2 separate regions of the Homo sapiens genome follow, and region 2 is linked to region 1. Evidence: fine-mapped expression QTL. Tissue or cell type: skeletal muscle. Region 1 holds a variant in brackets; the other region holds the start of a gene. All regions are shown on one strand. Distances are from middle to middle.

The links. PIP is the estimated chance that this variant, and not a neighbour inherited with it, causes the effect.
Region 2: TRDMT1 starts here. The variant in region 1 is fine-mapped to the expression of TRDMT1 in skeletal muscle (GTEx, PIP above 0.99).

What each region holds. Positions count from the first base shown.
Region 1 is chr10:17,128,754-17,136,861 of GRCh38, forward strand. CUBN (cubilin) reads right to left here and starts at 1,058. Exons shown (of 67, transcript NM_001081.4): 1 at 891-1,058; 2 at 368-497. The coding sequence starts at 1,012. The variant C/T (reference allele first, on the strand shown) is at 3,097.
Region 2 is chr10:17,196,974-17,205,081 of GRCh38, forward strand. TRDMT1 (tRNA aspartic acid methyltransferase 1) reads right to left here and starts at 4,699. Exons shown (of 11, transcript NM_004412.7): 1 at 4,598-4,699. The coding sequence starts at 4,661. RefSeq lists a silencer at 4,337-4,396.

The sequences.
Region 1 (8,108 bases):
AGGGGGAGGGAGGCTGAAGACAGGTTGATTAATGAATACAATATATAGTTAGATAGAAGAAATAAGACCTAGTGTTTGATAGACCAGTAGGGTGACTATAGTTAACATTAATCTATTGTACATTTCAAAATAACTAGAAGAGAACAATTCATATGTTCTTAGCATGAAGAAAAGGTAAATATTTAAGGTGATGGATATCCCAATTACCCTGATTTGAACTTTACACATTATAGGAATGTATCAAATTATGTATTAATAAAAAATAATAATTAAAAAAGATTCAAGGTACAGATTAATCTAGACTTGTTCAATTAAGTCACCGTATATGGATATACAAAATGACTTCAATATATTTCCAGTGTATTACCTGATGTAAACACTCACTGAGATCTTCATCATTTAATTTAATTTTTCCCAGGGATCCGGTTCTAAACTCAATGTTTTGAGCAGACCCCGTAAGAAACACCAAATTTCCTCTCTCTGTAGCCATTCGAGGCCTATATAATTCAAACGAGAGAATGCATCAGTAATTAGCAAGTACAATTTTTAAACCAAAATAACAAAGTTTCTTACTGAATAACTACAGGCCAAATACATCTTCACTTTTTGATCATCTCAACCCAACTGCCCCTGCTCATCTGCCACTTTTTTCTCTGCACATTTCTCAGAGATACCTCCTGGCAATTGCAAACAGATTATTTGCAAAATGACAGATAATAATTTGTGCATAGGAAAGTAATTTCATACCTCAGTCTAAATGTTTTTCCCTGTTTGCTTCTCAACATAATTTTCCTCAAGAAAAATTGCACCTTTGTTTATCTGGCTATTTGGGAAAACTGGTGAGGAATTAGCCTAGTCCCTGAGCAGGAATGACCCATGTGTTTACTTACTGTTGGAGATTGATGCTTCTTTTTTGTCTCTGCAGCTCAAGTTCTCCAGCTTCGCCATTTACTTCAGCAAATATTAATAAGGTAAGCAAACTCCAAAGAAAAGGTAAAGACATGTTCATCATCAACCTCCCAGGTTGGCAGGTAAGAGTGAGGCCACTCCAACCAACTGAGCATGGGATTTTGGAGAACAGCAAACCAGGCAGGTGTACTTTGAACCATGGAATATCCTGTAACTGTTGAGTTTTTTCTTCTTTGCCCTAGAAGGCTATGTTATTTTTTCTTCCAGAGGGATGTAAATGATCTTAGATCTTCAGTACTCTTCAACTTGTGAGAGGTCAAAATCTACCTTAAGTGATGCGCAACTTAATCATTATCTATTTGACCTTTGAAACAGTAACAAGCAGCTTTGAAAACATCCACTTAAACAATCTTTGCTTAAGAAGTAACTAGGTTTCAACAAAAGTAAACTGGTCATTATCTACACCTTTCTCTGTTCCCCTCCTTCCTCACCTCCCTTGCAGAGGAGTTCCACCTTTACCCAGCGCTAGGAAAACTAGATATCCACATGCAAAAGAAGTTGGAGGCTTACCTCATACCATATGCAAAAATTAACTCAAAAAAGTTCAAAGATCTAAATCTAAGAGCTAAAACTATAAAATTAACTCACAATGGTTCAAAAAATCTGAAACTATAACATAAAACTCAGAAGAATAGGACAAAAATTCATGACCTTGGATTTTGGATTTGGCAATGATTTCTTGAGTATGATACCAAAAGCATGGGCAAAAAAAGAAAAACACACAGACAACCAAAAGATATAAATTGGAATACATCAAAATTAAAAACGTTTGTGCATCAAAAAATACATCAACAGAGTGAAAAAGCAACTCCCAGAATGGAAGAAAATATTTGCAAATCATATATATATGAAAATGGGTTAATATCCAGAATGTACAAAGAATTTGTACTTTTTACTTTTTATCATCCCTGTGGGACCTATGGACGGCTGTGGAATCCATTCCCACTTTCCACACTGCGCTATACACCCTTCCAGCTGGATATATGGTTTGAGGACATGGAGCACTGATGTCCCCACTCACTCTGTGCTGGGACTACAGAAACCACTGAGAGTGATGAAAATATTCTACATTTCGATTGTAAAATCAACTATTGATGCACTCAGACTTTCCATGAGCACACAGACAAAACTGAATTTGAGGGAGAGCTGTAAAAATTTCACTTCTAAGAAAAATCTCTAGGTAATTACCATTGCATTGGTTAATACCCATGCAGGCTCTTTCAGGACAAGCCTGTTTGTGTTTTACTTATTTTGTGTCTTACTTATGTAGGCTCTTTGAGGAGAGGATCATTATGTACCATAGCTTATAATTCTTTACTTATGCCGGGCGCGGTGGCTCACGCCTGTAATCCCAGCACTTTGGGAGGCCGAGGCGGGCGGATCACGAGGTCAGGAGATCGAGAACATCCTGGCTAACGTGGTGAAACCCCGTCTCTACTACAAATACAAAAAATTAGCCGGGCTTAGTGGCGGGCGCCTGTAGTCCCAGCTACTCGGGAGGCTGAGGCAGGAGAATGGCGTGAACCCGGGAGGCGGAGCTTGCAGTGAGCTGAGATCATGCCACTGCACTCCAGCCTGGGGGACAGAGCGAGATGCCGTCTCAAAAACAAAACAAAACAAAAAAAAACTTTACTTGTGATACTCAAATAGTCACTGCTTTTAAAAATTTTTTTTAAACCTTCCCAATTTCTTCTATATGTCTCTTGTATCTGCTTCTTTCACTCAACATAATGCTTTTGTAATTCATCTGTGCTGTAGTGTATATCATTAATTGGTTCCCTTTTATTATTGAGTAGTATTTCATCATATGGCTATCCCACAGTTTGCTTCTCTACTCATCAGTTGATAAACACTTGAGTTATTTCCAGTTTGGGACTATTATAAATAAAGCTGTTATGAACATTTGTGAACAGGTCTTTGTGTCAACATAGGTATCTCATTACAATTTTAATTTATATTTCCCTAATGACCAAAGATGTTGGGCATCTTTTTATGTATATTTGCCATTTGTTTATCTTCTTCGGTGAACTGTCTGTTTAGATATTTTGCCTATTTTTTAAAATTTTGTTGTTTGTCTTTTATTGATTGTAAGAGCTCATATATTCTAGATACAAGAATTTTCAAATA[C/T]GTATTTTGCAAATATTTTTCTGCCAACCTGTGGCAAGTCATTTTGCTTGCTTAAAAATATTTTTCAAGGACAACAATAAGACACAAAAGACTACTTCCTAAGTGATTCTATATCACATGATTCCATATGAAAATCTAAAAAAGCCAAAACTACACTGATTGATAGACAACAAATCAGAGGCCAGGGGTTGGGGAGGAGATTGATCGCAAGGAGGCATGAGGGAATATTTAAGGGTGATGAAAATGTTCTGTATCATGATTGTGATTGTGGTTGCATGACTGTATAAATTTGTCAAAACTCATAAAGCTGTATAGTTAAAATAGATAATCTTTGGCAGATGTAAATTACAGCACAATAAAACTGATTAAAATTATTTCTCTTCTATATTTGTAAATGTCTTCATATATCAGGATGATACAAAATATTAATTTGGTATTAAACTAAATGCTAAGAAAAGATATCCAATAGCCTTTACATCAATAGAGATGAAATTTATCATAATAAATTTGTTTATTTGAAAGCTTAACAACTTGGCATGGGGTGGAGGGAAAGTTTGACAATATGAAATTTTTGGCAAGTTTAGAATAGGATAAAATAGTCTGGGCTAGAATCTTCCAATCAAAAGGATAATTCAAACTCTCTGAGCTCTGGACGTAACTATTTTCATGATTATACTTTCTTAAAGACCACTGAACTCAGCTAATCTTTCCAGTGCAATAGAAAAGGCCTCCAGCATGATCTTAATAAGGACTTCCTCTTTGACAGGATTTTCCTGTTTTGTTAATTAATGTGTTTATTACTCAACAAAGTAAAGATAATCTCTCAGCTCCCAATCTAAGCATTCAATTGCTCATTGTCACCCATGTTAGAAAAAAAAAAGAAAGTAACCGTCGTTCAAGGTCTGACTGACTTTTAGTGATGAGTTAGGGAATTTTACATCCAGCTCATTCACTCAACTCTAGCTCAGATCAATAGGCAAGTCAGACTGTCTGCATATGTTGACTCTGTGAAAAGCAATATAAAAATCAATTGCTGTTTCCAAGGGATTGGCACTCATTCTGTTTACTTACTCTATTCAGAAATACTTCAGGAAAGATGAATTAAAGTAGTTTTAGAATCTATGACCTTCAGATCTATATGGTAGATAACCTCTCTTCTTCTCCTCTCCCAAGGTAAACATTCTATAGACCTGAAATTCTATCTTTCATTGACTAGTAAAACTCCTGTCTCTTCCCTAATCTAGAATGCATTCCCCTAATATTCTGCATGTGCCCTTTACATATTAGCCATCTATAAGATGATAGGAACACGAAATGTAGTAAATTGCAGATTCTTCCCTCTGAAGCCTCCAGTCTAGGGAAGACCACATGGTTGAAGGTTAAGAACACGGGCCTGAAGCTCATTTATGTGCGTTCAAAGTCTGACTCCATCACTTACTGACCATGGAACCTTGTTTTTTCATCAGCAGACAGATAATAACAGCACTGAAGTTATGTAAAATGTTTAGCACATTAGGTTACTGGCACAAAATAAGTGTTCATTAAATATAAGCTGTTATCAATATCATGTAAAGAAATATAATAATCCTCACCCTCCTGTATCCTCTCTTGGGTTTAGATTCCTTAAAAGAAAAAATGACAAAAAGAATTCACAGCTGTCTTTATAATCTTGGGTACAAGGAGAAGCAAGGGTGTCTGATCATTTCTCCTATAAAAGAGGATTTCAGAGCAGAGAGATGAATTGGGGACTTTGAGTGAGGAAGACGATTGCTGACCTGGAGTTAAAGGTGTGAGGCAAAGGTAACTGATGTCTAAGAACAAGGCAAGGTGACTCCAGGAAGCACAGAACAACTCCACATTGGTGGGTGGAGAGCAAGATTCCATTTAAATCCAAGAGTTTTGAAGAGCAGGCAATCCAAAAGAAACGGTATCATCCTTGAGTGGAACTGAGTAACCAGGGTGAGGAAGCTTTTATATGGGGTGCTAGCAATGGAGCCCTCGGACAGGGAGGATCTGCTCTGGGGGCTGCTCAGTGTTTGGAGGAGGGCACCTAGTTGGAGAGTTTACCTAAGGAACCCTTATGCACATTTGTACGCATTCATTAAAATAAAACCCTTAGGGCCCGGCGCGGTGGCTCAAACCTGTAATCCCAGCACTTTGGGAGGCCGAGGCGGGTGGATCACGAGGTCAGGAGATGGAGACCATCCTGGCTAACACGGTGAAACCCCGTCTGTACTAAAAATACAAAAAATCAGCTGGGCGTGGTGGTGGGCGCCTGTAGTACCAGCTACTCAGGAGGCTGAGGCAGGAGAATGGCTTGAACCCGGGAAGCGGAGCTTGCAGTGAGCTGAGATCATGCCACTGCCCTCCAGCCTGGGTGACAGAGTGAGACTCTGTCTCAAAAAATAAAAATAAAATAAAATAATAAAAAATAAATAAAACCCTTAGGTCAGAACACTGATAACATTAATGGCATGTTGTAGACTTTAAGTTTATAATGGTGTCTGCTGTACTGTTGATTTCCACTCATCAGCCTTTACTCTCTTTGACTTCTTCAGCAAGACACATGCAAATGTATTTTGCATTGTTGCTGATACCATACATGGTACATGGAATGAGGGTGGTATCCAAATGTTCAGTGTACTGCTCATCCATAATTCATGACCTGCTGACTTCTGCTCCGGTCCTGTCGCATGGTCTCACCTTTCTCTTTCTTCCTCATCCTGGCTCCACAGCCTTTCTCACTGAAGTCTTAGCTCCCTTCTCTCCCTCCCTCCCTCCTTCCAAAACCACCTGAAGGTGGTTGTAAGAATCAGAATGAACTACTCCTTTCTCCTGTTTTTTATGTTTTTCAAGATATCTCTGTGCAACCTTTTCTCCTTCTGTGACATTCACTTCTCCTCCCTTTATATTCTGAATGCTCAGTTCTTTGCTCCTCCTTTAAATAATTCCCACAGACTTCACAAATAAAAATTCCTGTGGTCATCAAAAACATACATGAAAGTTAATCCCAGTATACTAGAATTTCATATGAGGGGAATTTAAGGTTAAGAAGGGGTCATGGTAATCAGAATATGGCTAAGGACAAAAACAGAGGTTGGGGGAGGGGGAGGGAGAGAGAGAGAGAGAGAGAGAGAGAGAGACCTTTATTGGAGAACAATGGAGGAGAGAATTAACTCTGCCTGGAAGGGGAATGCAGGCTTCCCAGGAGTCCATCTGAGTAGTTCCCAGGTAGAATAGTAGAGTGAGGAGTTTCAGGCAGAGTAATGGTGTATACAAAGCTTTTCAGTAGAAAGTAGCTCAGCAGGGCTACAGCAGTGTCTATATGTGGGAGATGAAGTTTTAAAAATGAACAGGAAGCCAAATCAAGAAGGACTTTGAAATATCATTTTAATGAGCTTAGATTTTATTTACTTTTAATACTGCAGAATTATGAGAGTCTCTTAGGGAAGAGATTAACATGGTCATGTTTGCATTTTACAAGCAACCCTGTGGAGCCATGTCTGAGACCCAGAGTTGGTAAGGAGGTTAGAGTACATGTTTCCCCCCGCAGATGGAGTCTCACTCTGTCACCCAGGCTGGAGTGCAGTGGCGTGATCTCGGCTTACTGCAACCTCTGCCTCCTGGGTTCAGGCAATTCTCCTGCCTCCACCTCCTGAGTAGCTGGGATTGCAGGCACACACCACCACACCCGGCTAATTTTTGTATTATTATTAGAGACGGGGTTTCACCATGTTGGCCAGGGTGGTTTCGAACTCCTGACCTCATGATCGGCCCGCCTAGAGTACACTTAAAGAGATGTGACCTGGGGAGCCTTAAGGCAATGGACAGTCAGATGAGGAGACAGTGAGAAAGATATTCAGAAAACAGGCTACAGAAATACTTGGGTAGTTAATATTTCATTAGAACTATTAGAGGGGGAAGTTGGCCGGGTGCAGTGGCTCATGTCTGTAATCCTGACACTTTGGGAGGCCGAGGCAGGCAGATCACTTGAGGTCGGGAGTTCAAGATCAGCCTGGCCAACATGGTGAAACCCTGTCTCTACTAAAAATACAAAAATTAGCTAGGCGTGGTGGCGGGCACCTGTAGTCCCAGCTACTCAGGAGGCTGAGGCAGGAGAATCACTTGAACCTGGGAGGCGGAAGCTGCAGTGAACCATGATTGCACTATGCACTACTGCACTCCAGCCTGGGCAACAGAGGGAGACTCTGTCTCAAAAAAAAAAAAAAAAAAAAAAGAACAGAGGTTTCTTGCTTGGAAAATTGGAATTGGAAGGAAAGAGATGTCATTAATTGAGTAAGAGAATAATCAGGGGAAGAAGATTTTGGAGGAAAGATAGTTCAGATTTGGATACATAGAGCTCTAAGGAATATCAACCACTCTGCTGCTTCACAGGCCTCACTCTCTGCAAGTGGTTTAACCATCTAAGATGGGAGTGGGGAAGATGTAGAGATGGCGTAGACTAGAACCTTGCTACTCCAAGTGTGGTCCACAGACCCAGCACAGGCGTCACTCAGGAGCGTGTCAGAAATGCAAAATCTCAGGTGCTACTGCCAACCTGCTGAATTAGAATCTTCATTTTACAAAGATCCTCCTCCCTGCCAATTATCTGTACACTCATTAAAGTGACCTAGGAGCACAAAGACACCTTCACTCATGACGAGAGTCAAGTGGTCCCTGCCATTGCGTCTGCATTTCCATTTCTACATTTTTCTTAGATTGATTCTCCAATTTTTAAATAATTTTCTATTTTCCACCTCTTTGTCTTGTTTTGTTATACTTTCTGAGAAAGTATTTATCTTTTAATTTTCTAGTAATTTGTTTTAAAATGTTGCTATCATTTTAAATTTGAAAACCCCTTTTTTGATTTTTGCTCTTGTTTCGTAGTTGTAACATCATCTAGTAATTTTTAGATAGTTGCTTTTTGATGTTTTCTTGTTTCCTGTATGGGCTCTGTTTTCTCTAAGTTGTTTTTCTCCCATTTGTTTGCTGGTTTAGGTCTTTCTAATTCA
Region 2 (8,108 bases), 68 kb after region 1:
AGAACCCAGCACTGTTGGTGTAAGCTGTGATGTCGGGATAAAGCTTCACTGTGGCCATACCCACACTATAGTGTGGGCAGTGCTCCTGTTCACCTAACCTGTTTGTTGGGTGTCCTGGAGATTCTGTGAGTTTCCAAATGTTTTTAATTTTTTTTTTCCTGATTATGTTAGCTAGAGTGGATTCTGTGGGTTGCAACTAAGAACTACATATAATACAAAAAAAGAATCTGGGCTAAATAAACCTTCATCATTTGATAAAACGATAGCAGAAGGATTATCAATTCAATAGTAACCTCAATAGTAAGCTAGAAAGAGTGTGGTACTGTGCTAGAGGCTGTACAGGAACAGAAAGGAACAGCAAAGAATGTTACATTTAAGCCATGTAAATACATGGGAAAATAGATATAAATAAAGTTAAATGAAATTTAGAAAATACAGAAGCATCTATGTAGTGACTGTAAAAATGCAACAGCATACTGGATATGCTGATAAGGATGAAAAACTTTTATTGACATATTTTTTAAATGTTCACTGGGTTTGAGGCAAATCTATCATGTTGCTAAAGAAATTAAATATACTTTTTATAACTGAAAATTCAGTAATGTGGGGAAAAATATTTGCAAATCATATATCCAATAAGACATTAAGATCCAGAATATATAAAGCCTACAACTCAATAACAAAAAGAAAATTCCAAAATGGGCAAAGGCCTTGAACAGACACTTCTCTGTATTGAAGAAAACAAATGACTAACAGGCACATGAAAAGACCCTCAACAACCCGGCACAGTGGCTCACACCTGTAATCCCAACACTTTGGGAGGCCAAGGTGGGTGGATCACCTGAGGTCAGGAGTTCGAGACCAGCCTGGCCAACATGGTGAAACCCCATCTCTACTAAAAATACAAAAAATTAGCCAGGCATGGTGGCAGGGACTTGTAATCCCAGCTGCTCGGGAGGCTGAGGCAGGAAGATCGCTTGAACCCGGGAGACGGAGGTTGCAGTGAACTGAGATCGCGCCACTGCACTCCAGCCTGGGCAAGAAGAGCGAAACTCCATCTCAAAAAAAAAAAGAAAGAAAAAGAAAAGATGCTCAACATCTTTAGTTATTAAGAAAATGCAAATCAAAACCACAATAGGATATGATTTCATATCCATCAGAATGGCTATTATTTTTAAAAAATGGAATAACAAGTGGAGAATATGGAGGTAGAGGAAACGGAGTGCTCATGCAATGGAAAATTGTGCCGCTGCTGCGGAAAACAGGCTGGTGGTTCCTCAAGAGTTACACAGTATTATCATATGATCCAGCAATTCCACTGCTAGGTCTATACCCCAAAACTTAAAAGTAAGGACTCAAACAATACTTATATACCAATATCCAAAGCAGCACTACTCACAATGGTCAGCAGGTAATTGATACAACTCAAGTGTCTATCAACAGATGAATGGATACACAAAATTGTACAGCTATACAATGGAATATTATTCAACCACAAAAAGAACTGAGATATTGATACAGGCTACAAAATAAATGAACTTTGAAGACATTATTCTAAGTGAAATAAGCCAGACACAAAAGGACAAATGTATTATTCTACTTATGTGTGGTACGCAGAGTAGACAAGTTCATAAAGACAAAGCAGAATCAAGGTTACCAGGGACTGGGGGGAAAGGGAATTTGGAGTTATTGTTTAACAGGTACAGAGCTCTGTTTGAGATGATTAAAAAGTTTTAGAAATGAACAAGGGTGATGGTTGCACAACATTGTGAATGTACTTAATGCCATTGAACTATACATTTAAAAATAGTTTAAATGATACATTTCATGTTGTGTTTTACCACAATAAAAAAATTCCATTATGAACCTTATCTAGAAATCAGTCAAAAATGAAGTTCAATATTATTCCTTTTGTGCTGCTTATTATATTATTTAATGTATAGATCCAAGGAAGTTAGTAGTTCTAACCAGAACAACGGCAACATAGCATAGTTAAAAGGTCAGGTAGGTAGACCTAGGTTAAAATACCAGTTCTACCGCTAACTAGTTTATTACATACTTAAAAAAGGACCTGAATTTAAAAGATCCCTAATAAACACTAAAGTTAGCTGCTGTTATTAGTCTTTATTATTATATTAAAAACCACCTGGAAAGGAGCAATGCATTTTATTACAGGTAAATTTTAAACTTTAGTACATCAAATAAGTGAACATGGGAAGGCAAACAAGTGTGGAAAAATATTTGCATCAATATGATTAAGAGTCTATATCCCTAATATGCAGATTTCCACCGAAAAGATGAGAGAGCAGAGAGGTACAGGGAGGCAGGAAAGTTGCTTTGGATCACAGGGTCAGCCAGGGAAGGCCAATATATGAACTAAGACATGAAATGTGAACCGAAGCTAGAGTGAAAAAGTCTGGGGTTAGGGAGCACTCTGGATGAGGCAACAGCAAAAGCAAAGGCCAGAACATCGAAGAACTTCGAGGGTTTGAGGAGTAGAGAGAAAGAAAAACAGTAAGCCTCGACAAGAAAGGCTGAGGAAAGAATTCAGGGAATCGTTTAATTAGAATTTCAGCTTTGGGTGTTGACGGTGAAGCGGGATGCTGAAGGGAGAGTGGCAGATAAAATTGAAGAGAAGACAGAAGCCAGAACTCACAAGCCTGTTAAGATGGGACTGTGATTACAATCTCAAAAGCAACCATTTAAGCAACGAAGTAACATGATCTGGTTTACTGTGCAAATGATCATGCTGCCTGCTAGAAGGAAAACGGAGTAGGGAGGCAGAATGGAAGTAAGGAGAGAAGCTGGGAAGCTATGTTAATAATTTAAATTACAGAACTTAATAGCTTGGATTCACAACAGTAGAACTGGCAATAGAAAAACGTGTACAAATTCACATTGCATTGGCTAATAGGAGAGAAAATATTTTACTCTTTCATTAATCCCAAAACTGTCACTTAAAATTACACAATTTCCCCTAACAAATTAGCAAGGATTAAAAATTGATAATACATATCCCTGATGAATATGTAGTTAAGGCACTCAAAAATCTCTGAAAAGCAATTTGCTATCCTCTCTCTCAAAAGCCTTAAAAATTCTGTTTTTCACTTAGTAACTAGCACACAGTTAAGTCTTACTGTTGAATTAATTCCAACAGTTAGTAAACATGCTTAAAGAGAAAATCGGCATTATGCTCAAGAATGTAACTGTAGCACACTGTACTTGCAAAAAAACTGAAGAATGATCTAAATATTCGACACTTAAGGAATGGCTGAATTACAGCTTATGATAAAGTACTAAGCAATTCATTAAGGAGTTTCAAGATATGGGAAAACGCGGACATTATATCACTTTAGAGAATTAACAAAGAGTAAATAGTACTAGAGTTTTGCTTTGATGCTGCTAAGTTTTAAAATGAGAAATAAAGATAGCCGGCAAACAAGTACTAAAAACTTAATGATCATTAACCTAGTCTAGAATTGAAACTCAATAAATCTGCTCAAAAAACTTATACGCTAAACCCATTAAATATTGTCTGTATCTTACAGTTACTCTTGTTACTCTTGGTCCTAAATAAGGAAGCAGGGAAGTTTCAGTTCGGTGGTTGTCTTAGTAATTTAAGAATAAACATGCACCTTCAAAGCCTGTTTGTCATTCTGTATCCCCAGCTCCTAGCACAAAATCTGGCACAGAATAGGAGCTCAATAAATAATTTTGAGTGAATATCACCAAAAGTAAAACTTTCAGTTCCAACTCAGCATGAAAGAAATCAAAAACCTCAAAATCAAAGACGTGCATAAAAGTAATAGTTTGCTTGATAATATCTCGTGATGTCGTTTTAAAGTAATAGTGATAATAATGTATAATATTTGGAGTGGTTACAATGTATCAGGCACTAACAAGCACTTGACAGACTTTAATCCTTATAATAATCATTCTCTTTTAAAACCAGGAAACAGGTTCATCACTGTTCACGAAGTAGCCCAACGTCACACTGCCACCAAGCTGGAACTCAGTTCTCTGGCATCTAAACGCAGAACTACAGAAGACACGTTTCTTTCCAACGATCAGACGTCCAAGTTCTTCAAGCTTCCTCTACCATCCTATTTAGCATTCGCAAACTTCTACCTTGAATTGTAGCTATTATCCCTTCCAAGATCCATCTCTCACCAGGGGAGCCCCTGACACTCCCTCCCTCCCCAGCTGGGAAGCCCCCCAGGATGAAGGACCGAGTCTCCATGCTTCTCGGTGGCTGCACACTTAGAATGGGGGCTTGGCACCAGGCGAGGGTCTCGCCCCTTTGATACCCTTTGAGGTTGATTTACTGCCTTGCGAATCCCGACTCCCAACTGGGCCCTTTGAGGCGCCATGTGCGGCCCCTCGAGCCAGACTCGGCGCCAGGAGAAGGGAGTCAGCGTCTGGAGGGGTGGACACGGCGGCGCGCAGGAGCTGTTTCCAGGACAACCGAGGGCCGCCCCACAGTGTCCGCCCCACAGTGTCCGCCCCTTGCGTCTCGCCGCTCCGCCCCTTCCCGGCGCGGGTGCTCCAACCAGCCCCCGTGAGCGAATAGAGAGAGGGGTGCTAGATGGACTCTCACCTCTCAGCGCGTGGTGCATGCCGCCCACGCCGCTGTATAGCTCCAGCACCCGCAGGGGCTCCATCCCCGCGCCTCAGCCGCCGCAGCCCCGGAGCTAGGCCTGCCGGTCCGTCGCTCCTCCTCCCTCCATCGCGCCGCTCCCTCAGCCTCTGGTTCCGCGGCGTTTCAGTTCCCCCGTCTCCTACCGCTCCAGGCTCAGGGCTTCAGAGGGCCTCGCGGCCTGGGGATTGGCAAGGGTCTAGAGGGGAACAAAGGACGGAAAACAATAAGGCTTCCCGAATGAATGGCAGCCACTCTGTAGCCTGATTTACGCTCCATTTCCTTCTTTGGTGTCAGGGGCCTTGATTGGAAAAGAAATCCAGAGTTCAGTAAAGGGGAGAAAACTGCCTTGGTTTCCAAGTGAATTAACACTGGTTAGAAGCCAGAAAAAAATCATTTTTCAGACAAGCTGCTTTTCTGTCACTTAGAAGCCTGAACATTCAAACATTCTTTCCACAGTGTGCCTTGTTTCCTGCCTGCCCTGGGTCAATAGAGAGAAATTAGACCAGCCTCTCCCCTAGAGAAGATTCCAGAATTATAAGTAAGGACACAAGTCCACTCGCAGCAGAGAAAGCCCTGTGTGCGTGCTGATAATACAGAGGATGTTTGTTGTGTCTATTAGTGGGGTTAATTATGTTTTAGCTTGGAAATTACACCTACATAGAATACACAGTGAATATCATGTAGGATTATTTATGGGTCTTTAAGTGCTATGGCCTTGATTCCTCAGGATGATCCAGTAACCAACTGTTAGAGGCTCATGTTGACGAAAAAAGCCAAACTCCGTAAAATGTTTGAAGAGGTTTATTCTGAGCACAAGGTGAGGACCGTGACCCATGACACAACCCCACAGGGTCCTGACAACATGTACCCAAGGTGGTTGGGCTACAGCTTGGGATTATATGGTTTTAGGGAGACATAAGGACATTAACTGGTATATGGAAGGTGTACTTAGTTTGGTCCATAAAGATGGGACAACTCAAAAAGGGGAAGGATTCCAGGTTACAGGTGGATTCAAAGATTTTCTGATTGGCAGTTGGTTGAAAGAGTTAAGTTGTGACCTAAAGACCTGGAATCAATAGAAAGGAATGTGTCTGGGTTAAGATAAGGTGGAGACCAAGGTTCTTATTATGTAGACGAAGTCTCATACGTAACAGGCTTCAGAGAGAATAATTGGCAAATGTCTCTTATCATGTGTAAAAAGATGCCAGACTCTTAGTTAAATATCTCTTGGATCAGGAAAAGACCTGGAAAGGGAAAGGGAGTCTCTATAGAATGTAGATTTTCCCCACAAGAGATGGCTGTGTAGGGCCATTTCAAAAAGTGTCAAAGAAATTTATTTTAGGGTAAAATGCTTTGATTTAGGGCCTGCTATCTTTCATGTGATGCTATACTAGAGTCATGTTGGAATTTTGGTATCTTATTGCTAAGAAGAGTCTGTTATGTCGGTATGAAGATCTCTTGTTTTAATAATAATACTGGTCAGTTGTGCCTGAACTCCAAAGAGAGGAAAGTATAATGAGGCATGTCTGACTTCCCTTTCCCAGCATGGCCTGAACTAGTTTTTCAAGTTTCTTTGGAATCCGCTTGGTGGAGGTGTTCAATCAGTCAGTTGGGGGGAGCTTAGAAATTTTGTGGGGGGAGCGGTGTTTACAGTCAATTATAAATAAAAATAATGTACCCATATGGAGGATAGAAAATGTTCCCGTTGTGAAGTGTTTTTCTCTTTGTTCCCAACACTGCCACAGGTTTTTGTTAGGGGGAACTTGGGGGTACCACTTGTAATAACAATAACTGATTTGTTAGAAATGTTGCATGCCTGCTAATGTAATGCTGTTAACAAATAAAAGTATAACCACTGCATCCAAATTATAACATTCACTGGTTCCTTTTGATGTGGTCTATGAAATTAACTTTTTAAATTGTACATGTGCATTGGCCACGTGCTTTGCTTTTTGTTAGTCACTTTCAGATAAGAAGAGGTGTATGGTAGAAAGATACCAGATAACTCAGCTTTAGCCCTGGCGTTGCCAGTTAACTGATTGTGTGACTTTGAGATGACCCTGGTTTCCTCATCTGTAAGATAAAGCAGAAGGGAACAGAAAGAGATGGATTGTTGAGGGTGTTTTAGTTCCAAGAAATGAATTCATGGCTGAATTCAAATTAGAAAAAATGAGACCTGATTTGGCAACGTGTTAATTATTTATTGAATTTGAAATATGTAGAAAGAAGACTTGTTACCTGCTTTAAGCAAATGTACTCTTAAACTAACTCAGCTTACAGAAACCATGTACACACTGACATATGTATAATGCATGAAGCAAACTTTTTAAATATTTATTACATATAGTACCAGAAATAAACATCAGTACATAAAATGTAAAGGGAACTATATAGTCACAGTGATTTATATATAGCCAAAAACCAATATATTAAACAAATCTGGAATTTTCAGCATTCGTGCTATAAATCAAAATAAATGTGACAAAAGACCTTACCTGTAGGGGAGAGACAGTACAGACACATGGCAGAGTTAATGAAAAATACCAACCTCCTGAGAGGAAGGAGCCTCAAACCCCTTCCCCACACAGGCTGATTACAAACTGTTTACTCTGATACTTAAGGATCTTCACGGTATAGCCCTGAACTTACTTTTCTTCCTTAACTTTTTTCTCTTCTTGAACTCTGCTGTAAATGAAACTACTTGGTGTTCCCCAAACATGCCCTTCAGTTCACTTCTCTGCTTTTGTTCTTTCCCTTCTCTAGAAATCTCCTAGACTTCTTTAAGACCTATACTTCAAGTGGAACCTTCCTTCTAGACTCCCAGCCTAAAATATCCTGACACATTGCAACTCCTAGGTCTCCCTCATCTTCTGAAATACAGATCACCCTTGTACTTGTCATTCAATCCTTCCAGTTATTCTAGCCCAATTGTCACCTCATATGTGCCACATCTTTATGTATTATTTCCTCTCTGAGGCTTATCTCGTGATAATTATTTCAAGAATGAAAACTCTCTCCATAATCATAATTTACAACTATCTCCATGGAAGCATCTGTAGATATTAGGCCCCCTGGGATTATGTATGCAAATGTCTTCCAATCACTGGCACAAATTACATGATTTGGTGGAAGAGTGGGAGGGCTGGTGGAGGTGGTACAATAGGGAGTAGCTGAGGAGAAAAGTGAGGTGAGCAGAATGAAAGTAAATATTGATTACTTTTTCCGAAAGCAAATCCCGAAGGCTCATAAGAGAGAAGAAAAACTCTCTAGTCCCATAATTTCCCATAAAGTCATCCTCAATGATATGTACAATACTATTTATATTTTAATTAGAGAAACTAGACATACTTTTAAAAAAGCAAGCAAATATCAAAACTGGAATGTTAGTATATTTACTACATTTTCTCTAAAAGCAGAAAATGCGTTTCTTTAAAAAAAAAACACATTAATTAACACCTGGAAAATAAAG